Regions from separate parts of the Homo sapiens genome. Here region 2 is linked to region 1. Evidence: fine-mapped expression QTL. Tissue or cell type: whole blood. Region 1 holds a variant in brackets; the other region holds the start of a gene. All regions are shown on one strand. Distances are from middle to middle.

Evidence for each region. PIP is the estimated chance that this variant, and not a neighbour inherited with it, causes the effect.
Region 2: TSPAN17 starts here. The variant in region 1 is fine-mapped to the expression of TSPAN17 in whole blood (INTERVAL, PIP above 0.99).

The regions. Positions count from the first base shown.
Region 1 is chr5:176,584,749-176,590,234 of GRCh38, forward strand. CDHR2 (cadherin related family member 2) reads left to right here. Exons shown (of 32, transcript NM_017675.6): 19 at 1-267; 20 at 1,206-1,277; 21 at 2,045-2,094; 22 at 4,283-4,434; 23 at 4,582-4,690; 24 at 4,780-4,868; 25 at 5,330-5,398. Among named protein-coding and RNA genes, the nearest start is that of GPRIN1, 23 kb to the right of the region's middle. The variant T/A (reference allele first, on the strand shown) is at 2,714.
Region 2 is chr5:176,644,443-176,649,442 of GRCh38, forward strand. It overlaps TSPAN17 (tetraspanin 17), which reads left to right and starts at 3,042. Exons shown (of 9, transcript NM_130465.5): 1 at 3,042-3,260. The coding sequence starts at 3,174. EIF4E1B (eukaryotic translation initiation factor 4E family member 1B) reads left to right here. Exons shown (of 9, transcript NM_001099408.2): 7 at 688-801; 8 at 935-1,074; 9 at 1,424-2,202. The coding sequence ends at 1,538. RefSeq lists enhancers at 1-283, 865-1,375, 1,646-1,940, 4,302-5,000 and a silencer at 2,614-3,273.

The sequences.
Region 1 (5,486 bases):
CACAGCACGGCCAGGTGGCTGTGGTGGTTGCCTCGGATGTGGACACCAGTGCCCAGCTGGAGATACAGCTTGTGAACATTCTCTGCACCAAGGCCGGGGTCGATGTGGGCAGCCTATGCTGGGGCTGGTTCTCAGTGGCGGCCAACGGCTCTGTGTACATCAACCAGAGCAAAGCCATCGACTACGAGGCCTGTGACCTGGTCACGCTGGTTGTGCGGGCCTGTGACCTAGCCACGGACCCCGGCTTCCAGGCCTACAGCAACAATGGTAAGGCAGCCTGTCCTTGCAGGGCTTGGCAGGCCATAGCTTAGGGGCCGCGGGAAGGAGCCCTGGGCTGGAACTCACAAGGTCTGGGCTCAGATCTTGGCTCCAGCCCTTTCCAGCTGCAAATACTGGGAAAGTCCCAAACCCTCTCCAAGCTTCAGTTTCCCCATCTGTCCAGTGGAGTTGGGCAGTGGGGTGGGCTGTGAAGATTCAATGAGAATATGGATGTATGGCATTTATTGCAGTGCCTGGCATGCAGTAGCATCAAATTAATGCCATTATTTTACAAGATGCTGTGAAAGAAAGATAACACTGCAGAGCTAGATGTGTGCTTGTATCCCACTTCTGACACCAAATAGCAATAATAATCACATTAACAACTAGCATATATTGAGTCCTTATGACAGCCAAGAACTACACCAGGCACCTTGTAAGAATTTTTCCACTTCCACACAACCCATGGGGTAGGTGTTCCCTATCCAATTTTATAGATGAGGAAACTGAGGCAGAAAGTGGGTATTTAAACAACCAGCTTATATAGTTAGAATGTGTCAGTATAATGTCATAGGTGAGATCTACCTAGGCTGGGCCCAATCCTGGCCCACCACTATTGCTGTGTGACTTTGACAAGCTGCTTATCTGCTCTGAGGTCTGGGATGATACTCCCACCCACACAGGCCAGAGAAGACCGATCAGGCATTCTGGGTCAGGAGCAGGGAAGGGGACTGAGCATGGGGGAACACATGGGAGAGAAGCTGCGGGGCATGGGGTTGAGGCTGCGGGGCACGGGGTTGAGGCTGCGGGGCACAGGGTTGAGGCTGCGGGGCACGGGGTTGAGGCTGCGGGGCATGGGGTTGAGGCTGTGGGGCACAGGGTTGAGGCCCAGGCTCTTTGGGTCAAGCTTTTGCCCAGAGCCAAAGCCAGCTGACCTTGTCTCCTAGGAAGCCTCCTCATTACCATTGAGGACGTGAATGACAATGCACCCTATTTTCTGCCTGAGAATAAGACTTTTGGTAAGCAGCAACCCCATTCACACACCATACCCCTGCTCCATAAGGCCGCCTTTGAGCAACCCCGACAGACCCTCCTTGGACCCCAGGGGGAGCCTTTAGAAAGGGGGGAAGGCCTCTAATCCTGCATCTTCCTAGGGCTGCAATAGGAGAGGACATTGGAGTTTTCTTTTTTCTTTCCTTTTTTTCTTGAGACGGAGTCTTGCTCTGTCGCCCAGGCTGGAGCGCAATGGTACGATCTCAGCTCACTGCAACCTCCGCCTCCCAGGTTCAAGCAATTCTCATGCCTTAGCCTCCAGAGTAGCTGGGGCTACAGGCATGCGCCACCACACCTGGCTAATTTTTGTATTTTTAGTAGAGACAGGGTTTCATTGTGTTGGCCAGACTGGTCTTGAACTCCTGGCCTCAAGTGATCTGCTCGCCTTGGCCTCCCAAAGTGCTGGGATTATAGGCATGAGCCACCATGCCCAGCCAACACTGGAGTTTTCATTCCAGCTCTGTCCGACCTAATGTCTGGCCCTGGGCCAGGACTTCCCTCTCTGGGCCTCCATTTCCGCATGGTCCTGTGGGCCTGTGACCTCACCTGTGACAATGGGAGGTGGATGACTTGCTAACTACTGGCCCAGTGGTGGCTGTAATAGGGGTCTCTTTTGGTAGAGAGGTTGAGGGCAGGTTTAGGGGGATGAGCCCTGAGCTGGGCTCGTGACCAGCCTTGGTCCAGGTGGGCAGTGTCCCGACCCCGCTGACCCCGTTCCCGTTCACACCTGCAGTGATCATCCCTGAACTCGTGCTGCCCAACCGGGAGGTGGCTTCTGTCCGGGTAAGTTCTTGGCTCCAGCCTTTGTTGGTCATATGAGCCCCAGGGGACACAGGGCTGAGGCCTTCAGGCCTTCCATGGTAGAAAGAAAATATATGGGCTCCAACACATGAAAAAGAAAACCCCAGAAGGGAAACCAACACCTGTCTAATCAATGTAATCAAACTTCACTGTGATAAATGTAGCATTCATAAAAATGTCATGACCGTAAATACCACTTGCAGTCCAGATATTTCTTACTATACCAGAATTCTTGAGTAATACAGAGAACTCATAGCTAATTGTAAATTAAGCCAGTGCCTTGTCATTAAATAATTCTCAGAGCCAGCTGGGCACGGTGGCTCAAGCCTGTAATCCCAGCACTTTGGGAGGCCAAGGCAGGTGGATCACCTGAGGTCGGGAGTCTGCGACCAGCCTGACCAACATGCAGAAACCCCATCTCTACTAAAAAATACAAAATTAGCTGGGTGTGGTGGTGCATGCCTGTAATCCCAGCTACTTGGGAGGCTGAGGCAGGAGAGTCACTTGAACTCGAGAGGCGGAGGTTGCGGTGAGTCGAGATCACGCCATTGCACTCCAGCCTGGGCGACAAGAGTGAAACTCTGCCTCAAAAAAAAATAAA[T/A]AAATAAATAAATTATTGGAGCCAAGTCATAAAAAGGCTTTCAGCTGTTTATGGTGTTGGATGTGGCAAGTTTATTAGGGGTGGTGGCCATGCCGTGTGGGGATGAGGCTTCCCACACCACCGAGGGCTGGGCCTGGCTGGGCTTCTTACTGACCTGGAGAGCTGCCTACCCTCTCTGGGACTCCGTTTCCCTGTTCAACAAGAAGCTAGCAGTTCCCAGAAGGTGGCATGTGGGTGCCATTCCCTATGCTTTGGAAAGGACATGGGTACAAGAGATGGACAGGGCTGGCCTTCCCCACTTAGAGCCGAGTGTAAGGACAGGGTCTCTCGGAGCCTCAGCTTCCTCTTGTAAAATGGGGATAGTAATTCTCCCTCTCTAGGTTGACGTTCATGCTAGAGACAGTGACTGTGTGACTTTCAAGTCTTAAGACAGCTTCCCAATCTTCTGCCAATTTGGTTCTAATGTCAAGAGTTTAGCCACGGCAATTTTCTTTAAATAGATTCCTTTTTAAGACCTAAGCACTGGTGTTGGCCTATCCTTAACAGTAACGTTGGTGAACTCGAAGCTCTGTGTGCTGGTTAAATTTTTCTCTAAAAGGCACTAGAATGAATAAAAATGCTTGTGTCCCCTCCCCAACCAGCTTCATGGTCTACTAGGGGAATTGGTACTCCCCGCACGGAAATGAGGGATCCCAGGGGAGGTGCTTAGGAAATCTGAGCATCGCTGTGTGTGTGCACGCCAGTGTGTGTGTGTCTAAGTGTGAATGTGTGTGCCTGAGGGTGTGTATAAGGGTGAGTGAGTGTATGTGAATGTGTGTGACAGTGTGTGGGTATGTAGGTGATTGTGGGTGTGTATGTGTGTGACTGTGCAAGTGTGTGAATGTGTGTGAATTGAGTGTATTTGTGTGAGTGTGTGTGAATTGAGTGTGTGGTGAGTGCATGAGAGAGTGAGGGTGTGAGTGTGTGTGTCAGGATAAGTGTGTGAGTGTGAGAGGGTGTGTGAGTGTATGTGAGTGTGAGAGGATAAGTGTGTGAGGGTGTGTATGAGTGTGTGCATGTGTGTGAGTGTGTTAGGGTGAGTGAGTGTATGTGTGAGTGGGACAGTGTGTGAGAGTGTGTGTGAGGGTGTGTATGAGTGTGTGTGCATATGTGTGTAAGTGTGTGTTAGGGTGAGACTGAGTGTGAGTGGGACAGTGTGTGAGAGTGTGTGTGTGTGAGAGGGTGTGTATGTGAGAGAGACTGTGTGTGTGAGTGTGTGTGTGTGAGAGAGAGAGAGAGTATGGCAGTGGAGGGGTGTAGGGGGAGCAGGGCAGGATTTCCACATGTGAGGGACTTAGGGCAGTGATCTGTTTGGAGTTGGGGAACAGGGGCAGGTTCTTGTCCAAATCTGGATTTGCAGAGCAGACACACTGTTTTTTGAAACCATTTGCTTATTCGGGGCAGCGTGGGGATGGCGGATAGAGACGGTGAGGGCCAGCCTCCCAGGCCACCCTTGCCTCTGATCCCTGCTGGGGTGGAGGGATGCCTGGCCTGGCTGGGCCCCCAGATATTGTCCACTCTTGCTCCCAGGCCAGAGACGATGATTCAGGGAACAATGGCGTCATCCTGTTCTCCATCCTCCGAGTAGACTTCATCTCTAAGGACGGGGCCACCATCCCTTTCCAGGGTGTCTTCTCGATCTTCACCTCCTCCGAGGCCGACGTGTTCGCTGGGAGCATTCAGTAACTGCGGGCGGCCCCGGGAGGGAGGTTGCGGGGAGGGGCCCGATAGGAGCTTTCAGGCAGCAAGTCCCCCATCCTGGAGGTTACAAGGGTCCTGAGGATTCAGCTTGGGTTCCAAGACTGACCTGCGCCTCCCGCCTTCCGCAGGCCGGTGACCAGCCTCGACTCCACTCTCCAAGGCACCTACCAAGTGACAGTCCAGGCCAGGGACAGACCTTCCTTGGGTCCTTTCCTGGAAGCCACCACCACCCTGAATGTGAGTGCTGGTCCCACCTCCAGCCCCCAACGCCCTCTGCCAGCCCCCAGGGTCCCTGGTGCCTCATCTCCTGCACACCCCCTTCCCAGCTCTTCACCGTGGACCAGAGTTACCGCTCGCGGCTGCAGTTCTCCACACCGAAGGAGGAGGTGGGCGCCAACAGACAGGCGATTAATGCGTAGGTCTGGGGAGCCCCGGAGGGAGGGGTAGGAAGAACAGGGTGTAGGAGCCTGGTCCCCGACAAAACCTGGATGGGATGTCTCTCAATCCTGTTCCTGACCCACATTTGACCTTGTCCCTGTCTTCAACCCTGTACTTTCACCTGCACGACGTTCTTGCATGTCCCCAGAAGCCCATACCCAGCCAAGGGCAGAGGGAAGCCTTGGAACAAGGCTGCCGTGTACAGTTGTGAAGGCTGTGTGTTGCACAAGGGCACTCTGCTTGCTAAGCTATTCACCCAGCCCCAGAGGAAGGGATTTCCTTTTGTAATTTTCACAGAGATGCTACCTACTCAGCCAACAGAGCTGTCCAGAGGAGGTGCCCTTTCTCACTCATACAATTCTTAATCCCACTGGCACAGCCCTGGCCACAGGCCCAGGCTAAGACCCCAGGCCTCTGTGACATCTGCCTTCTTTGCAGGGCTCTTACCCAGGCAACCAGGACTACAGTATACATTGTGGACATTCAGGACATAGATTCTGCAGCTCGGTGAGTGCCCAGAGGCCTGGGGGTGGGGTTGAGGGGGAGAAGCGGTAGCAGGAGGGGCCTGCTGGGTGATCCAGGCTCCTGACTCTTC
Region 2 (5,000 bases), 59 kb after region 1:
AGCTCTGCTCTCCTCTTTCCCTCCCGCAAAGGGACAAGGGGTTGATCCCTCCCGGACTCCACTGCGTTAATCCCTCAGAGGGGTGGGGGTGGGGAGCTACGGGCCACCTCTCAGCAGAGTTGTGGTTTCTGACTGGAGGAAATGCTCTACAGGAGCCCGGACAGAGTAGGTCAGGCCCAAGCCGCACCTTGGAGGACCTTAAGAGGCGGGAAGAGGGAGAGGGAGAGATTTCTGACCTGGCTCCTTAACTAGGGAAGGGCATCAGAATTGCTTGAGGACACTCATTGATGCCACACCCATCCCTGGAGGGCTGACATTGTGTTTAGAGATCTCCCCAGTGACTTCTGCCCTGCCTGGGAACCATGCAGCCAAGCCTGGGATGTCCCCCTTGCCTGCATTGGGGTCTGCCCCTGAGGCTTCCTTAATCCACCCCGATTTGAATGCTTGTCTTAAGGAACTCAGTAAAAGAGACATGCACATATACAAGGCTATACAAGGTGACCAGTGCTGTCTGTCGGGGGGAGCTGAGTGGCTGGGGGTGGAACCTGCTTGCACTGAGGGAAGGGAGGATAAGAGAATCTGGCCTACTTAGGGCCTCAGCAGAGAGCGGATAAGGCCGGGATGGTGGGTGGGTCCCCATTTCCCTTTGAACACAGGGAGGCAGTTGACTTGCCATCTGCCTTGCAGGATGGCATCCAGCCCATGTGGGAGGACAGCAGGAATAAACGGGGTGGCCGCTGGCTGGTCAGCCTGGCCAAGCAGCAGCGCCACATTGAGCTGGACCGGCTGTGGCTGGAGACGGTGAGTTGGAGGAGGAGGGTCCTCAGGGGAAGAGACGGGCTGTGTGGGTCTCATGGTGGCAGTGGTCTCAAGGATGGCAGGCCAGTCCCTATGTCCCAGCCGGTGATCTCACAACCCCCTACTTCGGGTCCAGCTGCTGTGTCTGATCGGGGAGAGCTTTGAGGAACACAGCAGAGAGGTATGTGGGGCCGTCGTCAACATCCGCACCAAGGGGGACAAGATCGCTGTGTGGACGAGGGAGGCGGAAAACCAGGCGGGCGTGCTGCACGTTGGGTGAGGAGGGTCTCTGGCACAGGGTGGGGACTTGGGTCTCTGCTAGAGGGAAGGTGGGTGGAGGGGGCTTGGCCTGCATGGGAGACCTCTGAAAGTCTCCATAGCCTCCCTCCCTTCTGCCTTGCCCACCTGTATGGAAGGTCTGGCGTTCAGATTTCTAACTTTCTCTTACGGCAGTGCAGCTCTCCTTTTGCATTAAGGGGGTCATATTTTGGGTTTCCACATGGGTAAGACACAACAGGTGTGGCTGTGGCCAGAATGAGGGTAGGAGTCTGGTGGCCTAAGTTATCTCTAGGACCCTCTGATGACTACCTGTGTCTCTTTTCCTCTGTGTCCCCCGCACCTGCAGGCGTGTATACAAAGAGCGCCTGGGCCTCTCCCCAAAGACCATCATTGGGTACCAGGCCCATGCAGACACAGCCACCAAGAGCAACTCCCTAGCCAAGAACAAGTTTGTGGTGTGAGGGGGGCCTTGGCACCCCTCCTATGTAATGGGACAGCCGCCACTGAGCCTCATTACTTTGGGGGATGGGGCGGGACTGGGGATCAGACAGCCTAGTTCTTACCTGTCCTCAAGTGAACAGGAATGCAAACACTCTTTAACATGAGTTGGGGCCTGAGCCTTAGGGGCTAGATGGGGGTAGTGGTGGCAGTCTGAGGACCTAGCTTGTCCTGGGGCCACAGGACAGCAGCAGGGTGGAAAAAACTCCTGAGGGTGGGGTGAGTCATGGCGGGGAAGGAGGGCTCTATGGTAGGCGGAGAAACCCATAGTCCAGCGTTTACTGTTTCCACCCAGGAAGGAGGTGAGGTGGCCTGAGAGACAGACTCTTCCATGGGTGGTGGGCTCAAGGGCACAGACATTCTGGAGGGTGAACGCCATCATTTGTACAGAGGGATACGTGGGTTGCTGAGGACTGAGAGAGCCTTGCAAGGCCGCTCCCCTTCTCCCCAGCTGTGACCAGGGCTGTCTGGGCCTTGCCTGCCTCAGGGCCAGACTGAAGTGGAGGTGGAGGGATGCTGGGCTAGGCCTCACCAAGGTTCTGGTAGAAGTGGTGGAAGTGGATAAACTTGATAATAAAAGCTTAAGCATCTTTCTGTTCCTGTTTTAAATAAATACTTCTGAACAAAGTTGGAATTATTTTTAAGAGGGCTTCAAACTGGAGTAAGATTCAGGTTCCCCCAAACTTTGATCTGCCTCTGTCCTGTCTTACAGGGGCTCATGTGAGATCACTGGGTACCAAGGAGCCTGACCGGGACCCTGGCCAGTATGGAGGACAGGGGGTGTGGCTGGGGAAACTCAGCCACCAAGGGGGCTTGAGCCAGGTTCCGGGGGGCATATGCCCCTGGCAGGGCGCAGCCGGCGTGGCACCAAGGCCCAGGCCCTCGTTTGGCCTGAGTTTGAGTCAGGATAAGTAGAGCTGGATTTCCGCTGGGTGAAGGTGAGCCTGATGCGACTCCACAATGACAAAACGTCCTGCACGTGTTAAAAACTCAATCCGGACCAGCTTCCCCATTCGCCTGCCAGAGCAGCAGTTAACCTTCCCCTGGGATGGGCTCCAACAGCAGGCTGGGGATTGGGATGGCGCTGGTACCCAGCAGGGGAAGCAAGGCTTCTACACCCCGGCGGCCTCCGGCGCCATCAGCCGGCGTCCCGGGCGGGTCTGCAGGACGCTGGGAAACGCGGCGGCGGCCTGCGCGGGGGCGGGGCCTGGCCGAAGGCGGGGCTGCGAGGAGGTCCGAATCAGGCTGTGGGGGCGGAGCTCGGGAAGCGGAGCCAGGTCCAGAGGCGGGGCTCAGGCGGGACTGAGTTGATCTATGGGGGCGGAGCCAGGTCAGGAGGCGGGACTCCAAAGGGACTGAGGGCTGTGGGGGCGGGGCCCGGTCCAGAGGCGGGGACAGCAGGGCTCCGGGCAAGGAGGTCTGGATGCTGAGGGCGGTCCCTGAGGGGCGGGCGGGGCCCGACCGGCGCTCTGTGTGGCCGAGGCCATGAAGCCGCAGCCGCCCGGCTAGGCCCCGGGCGGCTCTAGCCCAGGGCGGCCCGCGGGGCGCTGGGCCTGGCTCCCGGCTCCGGTTTCCGGGCCGGCGGGTGGCCGCTCACCATGCCCGGCAAGCACCAGCATTTCCAGGAACCTGAGGTCGGCTGCTGCGGGAAATACTTCCTGTTTGGCTTCAACATTGTCTTCTGGGTGAGCGCGGGGTCTGCGCCTTGCCCTGTGCTGGGGGGTGGTGGGAGAGGGAGATTCAGTCTTTTGCTGGGGGAGACCACTCCCTGCCCCAAGAGTTTGGAGCTCGGGACCATCCCCCCACTTCTGCCACACCCACGCCCACTTCCAGGACCACCCGAGGTAGCTACAGAGGCCCGGATTGCTGGGGGCGGGTCCTAGCGACAGCGTGGGGTCGGGGTTGGGGTAGGGAGTCTCCCTAAATAATCCCGAGGCCTGGTGGAGAAAGGGAAGGTGTTTCCTTGAAGACCCCAGGGGCGTGCTAGGTGCAGGTTGCCCCCTCTCGCCCAGCCCTCCTTCCTACCCTGGGATGTGGGATGCGTGCCAAGCCCCACCCCTGGTTTAGCCGGTAAGGAGATTCTGGCGTGAAGGGAGCCGCCAGGCCCCTTCCCCGGCCTCCTTTCCCTTCCAGTAGTACCTGGGTCAGGTGCCTCACCTTAGGCTCCTGCAGAGTGGGGTGGGTCACAGTCCTCTGCCCACCCCAGTCCCGCACAAGGAGGCTGACCTGCCAGGAGGGGCAGGGAGGGACAATGGCGAGTCCTTGGCGGCTGGGAGAGGATCTCCCCGGTTGAGAGCCTGGGAGCTGGCCTTGGGGAACAGAATTCAACATTCCACAGCTGACAAGCTGAGGCTCCTGGGCGGGTCTGCCCCTACCGGGGAAGGGAGCTACTAGTGCCCCTCCCAGGGTGGCATCTGTCCCCCTGGGCCCTGCCAGGTCATTTTTCCCATCTCTCCAAAGCCGTGGCCCTCTGCAGTCTCTGCTCCTGAGGCCTTGGGTCAAGATGCCAGGCCTTTTCCCTTGTGTTCAGCAAGACTCAGTGGCACTGCCCCCCACCCACGTGTCACCGAGCTCACTGGTGTGGTGGGTGTCCTTGCACTGCAGCGCTAGGCTCTTGAGGGTGTGGGCAGTGTGTGGGAGCACTGGCAAAGAAGTCAGAAGGCCTGGCTGTAGCAGGCCTGGCTGGGACACCTTGGGCAAGTCATCTCTCCTCTCCGGGCCTCAGCTTGCCTGCCTGGGAGACGACGATAAAGAATCTGCCTGTGAGGGCTGTTAGGCAGATACAATGAGTTCAATTTGTTGTATTCTCACAACTGCCTTATTATCTGCATTTTACAGATGGGGAAACTGAAGGAATAGACACAGAGAAATTAAGTCACTTACCTAGGGTCACACAGCCAGAAAGTACAGAGCCAAGGTGACGGCTTAGTGGGCAGAGGGTGGAGGTGAGGCAGAGCTGTGAGCAGAAGTAACCTCAAATACCGAGGGGGAGCAGGCGTGAGAGACCCGGGTTTGTTGCTGGGGCGGAGCGTGGGGTGTTATGTTAAGGTGGCATGGAGAAGCGAGGGCTTCCAGTGATGGGTCTGATCTGGCTTCTGTTCTGGAGACCGCTTGCCTGGCTGCTGTGTGGAGGGTGGATGAGGGGCAGGGCCTGGAGGTTTGGAATGGGGGCAGGGCTGGGGCAAAGCTGGGATGGTGAGGTGGGAAAGGTGAGGGAGGTTGCTGGGAAAGTCAAGAGGCTGAATTGACTGGGCTGGGTCACTTGGGGGCTGGAGGGAGGATTTCAGATTTGGGTTAAGGTGGCCTAAGGGAGGCTGCTTGTGGAACAGGCACAGAGGTTTTCATGTTTAATGTCAGGCAGACCCTGGTGTTGTTCTGTTTGGAAACTGCTTGTGGTTTCCTTTTTTCTTTTTTCTTTTTTTTTT